Regions from separate parts of the Homo sapiens genome. Here region 2 is linked to region 1. The links come from fine-mapping of genetic effects on gene expression. A gene starts in region 1. The other region holds a variant in brackets. All regions are shown on one strand. Distances are between the middles of the regions.

Evidence for each region. PIP is the estimated chance that this variant, and not a neighbour inherited with it, causes the effect.
Region 2: its variant is the best candidate, but not a certain one, in a credible set for the expression of KALRN in nasal epithelium (TOPMed, PIP 0.88).

The regions. Positions count from the first base shown.
Region 1 is chr3:124,030,854-124,035,239 of GRCh38, forward strand. It overlaps KALRN (kalirin RhoGEF kinase), which reads left to right and starts at 2,516. Exons shown (of 60, transcript NM_001388419.1): 1 at 2,516-2,960. The coding sequence starts at 2,888. RefSeq lists a silencer at 2,032-2,491.
Region 2 is chr3:124,602,718-124,607,103 of GRCh38, forward strand. All of the region lies in intron 34 of KALRN (kalirin RhoGEF kinase), which reads left to right. Among named protein-coding and RNA genes, the nearest start is that of UMPS, 130 kb to the right of the region's middle. The variant A/G (reference allele first, on the strand shown) is at 2,214.

The sequences.
Region 1 (4,386 bases):
ATGGCTTAGTGTATGGTTTATCTTGACAAATGCTACCTGTGCATTTGAAAAAATGTGTATCTGCTGTTATGGAGTGGAATATTCTATAAATGTCAGTTAGGTTAGGTTGGTTGATAACATTGTTCAAGTCTTCCATATCTTTACTGATGATCTGTCTCCTTATTCTATTAATTACTGCATTTTACAGATATTAAATTATCTGACTATAATTATAAATTTTTATATTTCTCCTTGCAATCCTATCAGTTTTGCTTCATGTACTTTGAAGCTATCTTATTAGGTGCAAACACTCTTAGGATTGTTACGTCTGCTTGATGAATTGAAATGTTCCTCTTTATCCCTGGTAATATTCTTTGCTTTGAAGTCTTCTTTGATATTAATATAGCCATGAACACTTAACATTTTAATAGAAGTTGCCAAATTTCCTCTCAAAAAAAGTTTGTGTCATTACATAAGGTGTTCCCCCTTTCTTGTCTATATCTTGAGATTTTGATATGACCCTTCCTCTAAACATGTAATGTTTCTTCTGAATTGTGATGAGCTAATGCCTTGCCAGGCCACTGGTTCTTTAGCTGCACAATGGTGGCAATTAATTAATAGCAGCTCTGCCATCACATATGTGTGTGCGGGGGTAGGGGAGCAGACCAGGGGTTAGGCAAAGGATTAAGGGGAAGGAAGATTTTGAAAAGACAAATGAGAAGTATTTTCATTGTCAGAAAAGGCATAGGCAAAGGGGCATCTTAAGCCAGTTCAAGATACTAGGGCCAGATGAATTAGATCTCAGGGCAGTGAACTTGTGATGTCAGAGTCACTACAGAGGTCTGATAGATGTACTCAAGGTTGGAGACAGGTCTGATAGGTGTATCCAAGGTTGGAAACAGGTACTTTTTTTTAATGGGTGAAAAAAAATTAGACTGTTTGTGTCAGTGAAGAACGTGATGCGTACAGGGAGCCAGAAAGTGTTCACTAAAAACTAATTTAATTCATTTTATTTGCTACAAGTTTACACAGTTGGTGGATCTGCATAGGCCCCAGTTGCCTTGGCCCCCAGAGAGAGGTGGAACCAAACAGGTTACTAGAGACAAACAGATCCAGGAGATTCTGTCTGATGGGTTGCAGTCATTAACTTCAGACCAGTACCTGGTTTTCCTATTAGGCGTGTTTTAACACATTAGGTCAGGCCACCACTTCTCCATCTGTCTGGATGAGGCAACAGCGAACAGCGCTCAGCAGACCTTATTAAGTACTCAGGTCTTAAAGACCCTCTGTTTGGTGGGCTCTGTAGTCACTAGAACCATAAACACACTACTGGCTAATTATTGTTTAATTATTGCTTAAAAACTGATGGGCACAATACAATCACCGCATTAATTACCCCATACAGCATCTGTTTTCTTTTTTGCAGCCATCCCCATTCCTCCCCAGCCCCTCTCCCCACTTTAATTGAAATTCAGCTTGCTGTAACACCTCCTTCCTCCTGGCCAACTGGATCTCTCCATTCACATGAGGGAGAACAAAACCGAGAAGGCCCCAGGGATTAGAGAGTTTTGACAGCTGTCCAAGAGGAGCGCGGAGATACGGGCCAAGTACGGAGGCAGGACAGAGACAAACGAGGGACAAGAGAGTGACGGAGGGAGGGAGAGATAGGCAGGGAGACATCACAGGAGCATTAAACTGGACAAAGAGTCACAGAGACAGGCGGAGATGTTTAAAGGGGCGCTGAAAAGGGGAAAAGGACGAGAAAAGATAAAAAGGAGAGAAACTGTGGCGAGCTGGTGAGGAAAATGTGAGAGGCTCAGGAGGGCAGGGAGACAGAAGAGAGCTCGTCAGGAAGGAGGGGAAGAAAGGCCGGCCTCTAGGGACAGGTCAGTCCAGCTTGGAGACCGATCTGAAGATCCAGAGAAGGCGGGCGGGCAGCCTGGTGGTCCCCTCACACACCTGGGAGTGGAGTGGACGGAGGAGGTGGCCGCGGGGCCGGGAGGAGCACCGGCGGCGCGAGCGGAGAAGCTGAGCGCGCAGCGCCCGGGCCGCAGAGCCCCCTGGACAAGCCTGGCGTGTGCCCTGCAGCCCCGGGCTCGCCCGGCGGCCCCGCCCCCTCCCTGGCCCGGGCTTTTCCTGCGGAGCTCAGGAAGCCGGCCTAGCACAGCCTCGAACAATAGCTCGGGACTCGGGCTCCGCTCCCCGGGAGGCCGGCGCGGGGCCGCTGGGACTGGGGGCGTAGGCGCCGCCGGGGGCCCGCAGCGAGCCCTCGGCCCCGGCCGGAGCTTCAATTCAGCTCGGCGCTCCCGGGGTCATTGTTGGCCGGGACTGAGGGAGCGGGAGCCGGGGGAGGAGCTGGGGAGGCGGCTGCTGCGGCGGCGGCGGCGGCGGGAGCCAGAGGGGGAGCTAGAGAGCGAGCGAGCGAAGGAGGGAGGTAGCGAGTGAGCGAGTGAGCGAGGGAGGGAGGAGGTAGGGAGACAGGGAGGGTGGGAGGGAGGAGGAAAAATAAAGAGGAGAGAGCGGAGCAGGGCTGAACAATAGAGACAGGCAGACGGGCGAGCAGGAGAGCCAGCTGCCGCTGCTGGGGGACAGCGGGCGCCCAGGCAGCCCGCACCCCGGCCCCGGGCCCCGGCCCCAGCCAGACAGCAGGCGGCCAGCGCCCTGGGGAAGGGGTACCATGGGGGAGCTGGCGGCAGGCACCCCCAGCCCGCCGCGCGCCTCCGCCTGAGGGAGGCTCAGCGTCCTCTGCCCCAGCCCCGCCGCCCAACGCCCGCCCTCGAAGCTCCGCGGCCGCCAGCTCTGCGGCCGCAGCAGCTGCGCCCCGCGCCCTCCGCCCACCGGGCGCCGAGCAGCCCTCGGCCCCAGGCTTCTTCGGCTCCCGGCTGCCCGCGGACGCCCTCCCACAGTCATGAACCCCCCTGAGGGAGCAGCGGAGGAAGGAGGAGCAGCAGACTCGGACGTGGACGCCTTTTTCCGGACAGGTAAGCCGGGCAGGGCGCGGGGGGCCAGGGCTGAAGGCTACTGCCTCGGACGCGGCGTCTCGGACAAGTTTGGGGAAGGAGGGCTGTTGCTGCCGCGTGCGTGTTGGGGGGCAGTGCCCCCTCGGCGTCGGGGCTGGAGTTGCCGAGATTCTGGTTGTTATGGCAGTGCTGGCTGCGTCTGGGGAGGGCGTGGGGGCTGGGAACTCCGCGCCCCTCCGCCTTCACCCCAGTTGCGGGAGTCTGTGTTGGGGAGGTGGGAGGCGGTCCCCTCGGACCGCCTTCTCCCAGAGCGCGGGGATGGGCGGTGTTGGCTCACTTTGCAGCGCGCCGCTCCGGCTACCGGCGTCCCGGCCCCTCCCTTGGCTCCCCCTCCCCTGTGCCTGTCAGCGGGGCTCCCGGCGGCCGCCCTGGGTCGGCACCCCTCCTCGCCGTCGGGGGCCCGGGGCCCTGATGTGCACAGAGGGGCGGCGGGGACCCGGAGCCGCGCCGGCTGCAGACTGACAGGAGTGGGGCGGAAGACATCGGTCTCGCCTGGTGCGTGTGGGGAGCTGGTCCCTCTGACTTGAGAGGCAGACCCAGCTGGGAGGGCGGTGGGCGCCTCGGACCTCCCCCTTGTCCTCCTCTTCAGTTCTGGGAACGGAGGAGCTATTCATAAGAATTACTCATTCCTGGAAGTGTGAGTTAGCGTCCCTCTCATACACACCCACTAAGTCTCTGCTTGCTGTGAGGTGTAGAGCCCTGAGATGTCTTTCTAGCTCTTTGCGCCCCTGCCATCGTCCAAGTCCCGGGTCCATTGCTCCTCCTGCTCCCTGGCTACACAGTCCCTCCCTAGAACCGGCACTGACCACCCTTATCTTCCACCACCTGTGGCCCTGTTTCTCTGATGGCCAGGGATTCCCCGTCTCCCTGTACCTGTGGCTTCCACCAGCTTCTGTGTGTAGCTCCCCATCTCCCCACATGTCTGAAACAGTTTTGTCTGGAATCTTTGTCCCAAGGAGTCCAGTAAGTTACCGGGGCCCCATGCATCTGCTCTCCCTTCTGGAAAGTTGGATTAGAGGACATGAACTGGTGGGGGTCAGGGGTCAGGTTAGCTCTGGAGGGTCTCTGCACATCCATCTGTTTCCTAACCCTGTTACCTTGCCCTGGAGGTCATCTCTAGGGAAGGGGGTGGGGTGCTTTGCGGGGGAGACTTGTGGCTTTGGAAGTCAAGACTTGATTGGCTCATATGTTCATTCTCTAGTTGATGTGCAGAGGAAAAAACTGGAGGACAGGAGCTGGTGCCAGGGTCTGGGGAAATCAGAGGGAGCCCTGTCATTCTATTCTGCTTCCCAGGTCTAAGCCTTCTTTCCTTTTCTTTCTTCCTCCTTCCTTCCCTCCTTCCTCTTCCGAGACATGGATTCTATTTTCTTTCTTCTCTCTCTCTCTC
Region 2 (4,386 bases), 570 kb after region 1:
GAGACCTGGATAGGAATGGAATATCCATGGTAACGATGAACAGGTGTGTGACTGTAGCATCCTTAGGTCTTCAGCTTTTGGGAGTCAGCCTATATGTTTCACAAATGACAAAGCTGAGGCTTAGAGAGATTAAATGATTCTCCCAAGAGTACTTAGTTTGTGTGTTCAGTCCTGGTTTCTTCTCACTTACTCTGCTGGCCCCAGTTAATTCCAGTTTTCGTGGTTTTTTTTTTGTTGTTGTTTTGTTTTGTTTTTGTTTTGTCTTTTAATTACTACAGTGGAATCTAGTGCAATTTCACATCATGTGCCTGAAACCATGGGATGGGTTAGCACTTCCAGAAGCAGCCTTTTCTTGTGGGGTATTATTTTTATTTGCATATGTAAACCCTCTGCCGCCAAAGCTCTTAACACAAGCATTGCCTGGCATACACACACAGACTTTTATACCCTAAATAGCAGAGGCCTGGAAATGTTTGTCTACCTTTGCCAGCATCTGACTGTGATTATCTTTAACCACAGTCACACTTGTTTGTCTCCTAAAATAGTATTGACTCTCCGGAGGAGGCTGTTTCTAGTCTTCAAAGCCCTCCCAGATATCTATCTCCTTCTACCTGCCTCCTCCTGGTAGCCTTGGCAGCCTCTAATTGATTCACTTAATTTTCTTGCTCCGTATGGCAACACTCCTGAATCCTTCCTTAAAATTCACAGACCTCTCCTTGTGGATTTTACCTCCCGGAGCCCACCTGTTGATTCAGGCAACTGAAGTGTGGCTCTGCTTGAGATGTTCCTCAGCTATTCTTCCTTCCTGTCCCTGGCTCTCCCTACAGGTCATGCCAATATGCAGGTGTCGACTTCCCCAGAGGATAGTAGCCCAAAGGCCAAGCTGTGTCTGACCTATAGGGAGAGACCCAGTCAATTTTTGAAATGGAGCATCTCTCCCCACAACTCTCCCACGAGCATGGATATTAAAAATGTGTGTCCTTGCTTTGAGGTTCTGTCTCAGAGAAAGTCAATATTCCCATATGCTAGTCTATTGGGTTCCTTTGCCTTAAAGTAAAGGTTGCCTCATTTTGACTTTGAACTTGATGGGGGCAAAAGGGGGAGAATGAAGGTGTTTTTACCTTATAGTATCTAACTATGCCCTCCCACCTCTCTAGAATAATACATTATACCAGGCTAGAAAAACTGCTTCAGATGGAGCCTGGTGATCTTATTTGAGAAGGTCATTCTCAGAGCCATCACTAGGATAAAGAGAGTGAACAACATCAGCTCACACATGTGATTCTGTGTTGCATGCTTTGGACTTGGATTCTATCACCGAGAGATCCCTTCTCTGAAACAGTTGGGGTGAAACATGGGTGGTAGACCCAAAACCCCCACAAAGTAAGAACTCTGAACAAATAGATGGTCAGGACTGCTTTCACGTTTTTTTTTTTTAAATTTATTATTATACTTTAAGTTTTAGGGTACATGTGCACATTGTGCAGGTTAGTTACATATGTATACATGTGCCATGCTGATGCGCGCACCCACTAACTCGTCATCTAGCATTAGGTATATCTCCCAATGCTTTCATGTTTTTTAAGCTTTCTCTATGCCTTGGATAGTGTATTCTCCAGAGTGAGGATGTGGAAGTTATGCATCGAGCCTGAAAAGAGCCACTCTTGGTGCTGCTGTTGGACTATATTGCTCTTCCCAAACCACAAAGGTTGTTTCTTTATAACCTTGTGATCATAGAATTGAAAGTTAAGGTGCTTAATGGTGGAAAATAGTTTGGGAAACGAAGGTTGGAGATGAGCTCATGAAAGCCCTATAAATATTTTTATGATCCTTAAAATAAATTATTCCACTAAGGGGAATAATAGTGATTACTATGTAATTTCCATTCTATTGGGTTAGAATTTTTCAGAGTTTTTCCTGATTCAAAATTTGAACTAGATGTTTTTTAATTTCGTTTAAAATTTTTAATTATTAACTAATTATTTTAGAGACAGGGTCTCACTCTGTCACCCAGACTGGAATGCAGTGGTACGATCATAGCTCACTGCAGCCTCAAACTACTGCACTCAAGCGATCCTCTTGTCTCAGCCTCCTGAGTAGGTGGGACCACAAGGATGTGCCATCATGCCTGGCTAATTAAAAAAAAAAAAAAATTAGGCCGGGTGCAGTAGCTCATGCTTGTAATTCCAGCACTTTGGGAGGCCAAGGTGTGC[A/G]GATTGCCTAAGCCAGGGGTTCCAAACCAGCCTGAGCAACATGGCAAAACCTCATCTCTACAAAAAATATATATATACAAAAATTAGCCAGGCATGCTGGTGTGCACCTATAGTCCCAGCTACTCAGGAGGCTGAGGTGGGAAGATCACTTGAGCCCAGGAGGCGAAAGTTGAAGTGAGCTGAGATCACGCTATTGCACTGCACAGGGTCTCACTCTGTTGCCCAGGCTGGTCTTGAACTCCTGGCCTCAAGGGATCCTCCTGCCTCGGCCTCCCAAAGTTCTGAGATTACAGGCATGAGCCAGCACATCTGGCCTAAATTCCTTTCTGTGTGTGGTTATAGAGATAATAGGTGCATTGGCTGGATGCAGTGGCTCATGCCTGTAATCCCAGCACTTTGGGAGGCTAAGAGGCAGGTGGATCACTTGAGGTCAGGAGTTCAAGACCAGCCTGGCCAACATGGTGAAACCCCATCTCTACTAAAAGTACAAAAATTAGCCAGGCATGGTGGCACATGTCTGTAATCCCAGGTACTTGGGAGGCTGAGGCAGGAGAATTGCTTGAACCCAGCAGGCGGAGGTTGCAGTGAGCTGAGATCACGCTATTGCACTCCAGCCTGGGCGAAGAAATGGGACTCCATCTAAAAAAAAAAAAAAAAGAGAGAGAGAGAATAGGTGCATTAAGATAGTTTCATCCCACTGTGGTCCTGTATCCAAATGGGGCCCAAAACTGTGTAAGAATATAGACTTTGAAGCTCCATAGACCTGCCTTGGATATTGGTTCTGTCCCCCTGATTATAGAGCTTTAGTACTGTAGGGGTTTTGGTGTCATATATCTAATAAATATGCATGTACACCCAGGTTTTTAAGCTGCTGTGCTTCACCCATGGCAGTGTGATTCGTCAAAATAAACAAGAACGGAGTAGCACTTGGATCTGCCTCCATCACCACCCCTTCCATTACACGAGTGAAATCCCCTCTATCCCAACACACACATCAAAATGTAATGCTTGCCGCAGCTTTTTGCATCTCTTCCAAGAGGGAGGCTTGATTGGAAAACCTACTTCTGATTAACCACCAACTTCACCCTCCTTTATCATTTCAGTCCACTGCTGACTTTCTCTGATTTATCCCCATCATGAATAGCTTAAAGACTTGACTTAACATAGTCATGCATCTGTTCAGCAAATTTTATTGAACTTAAGCATACTGAAACTTAAGCTCACAGTTTCAGAAAACACAGAGAGAAATAAAATCACATTGATTGGAGTTTGTGTACAAGAGGAATTATACTTCGGGGCAATTATATTGTTCTCATTTGGGGCATTCCTTTGGCCTTGCATGATACTTAGACTGGAGTGTCTCCTCTCTTAGATGGGAGTCCTCATTGGTGACCCAAAGGACCTTGGAAACTGCCCAAGAGCTAGAGCCCAAAATCTCACATGTCTGACAAGCTCAGTGCTGGCATAGCTTGCAGCATTCACTTAGCTATGAAAACGCCCAGGCCATGTGATGTGTGGCAAGGCTTCTTCTTAATCCTTTCTTATAGTCCTGTCTCCTTAAAAATACCATAAATTTGATTTATAAAATATGAGAACCATAAAAGACAAATATAAAGCAGAGGTTCTTTGAAGTTTCTACTTTAAAATGTTTTTCTTAACGTTAAAGTCAGGTAAATTATATCCACAGATCTCATTATACATAAAAATAAATTTCAGAAGGATTTCAGGCAAATGTAAAGACACTATAAAGGAAGTTAAAACAAATGATGGACTAGGAGAAAATGCGTGTAACCTGCCTAATAGATAAAAGATTAAGACCCAGAATGTATGAAGAGTTCTTATAAATTAAGAAAAAAGCTAATTAACCCAATATTTTAAAAAAGGGCAAAAGCGATGAAGATGTAAGACTTTTTAAAAGGCAATAAACTTTTCAAAAGATAACATCTAGTAATCAAAAATTCAAATAAAAACGATAAGATTATGTTTCACCCTTCAGATTGGCAAAATTATAGGTAAGGCCAAATAGATATTCATCCACTCATGGGAACATAAATTGATTCTCTTTCTTCAGGGCCATTTGGCAAAATCTATAAAAATTGAAAATGTGTATGTCTTTTGACTCATCAATACCACTTCTTGTACTGTACCCTAAAGAAGGTCTCCATTTGTCACA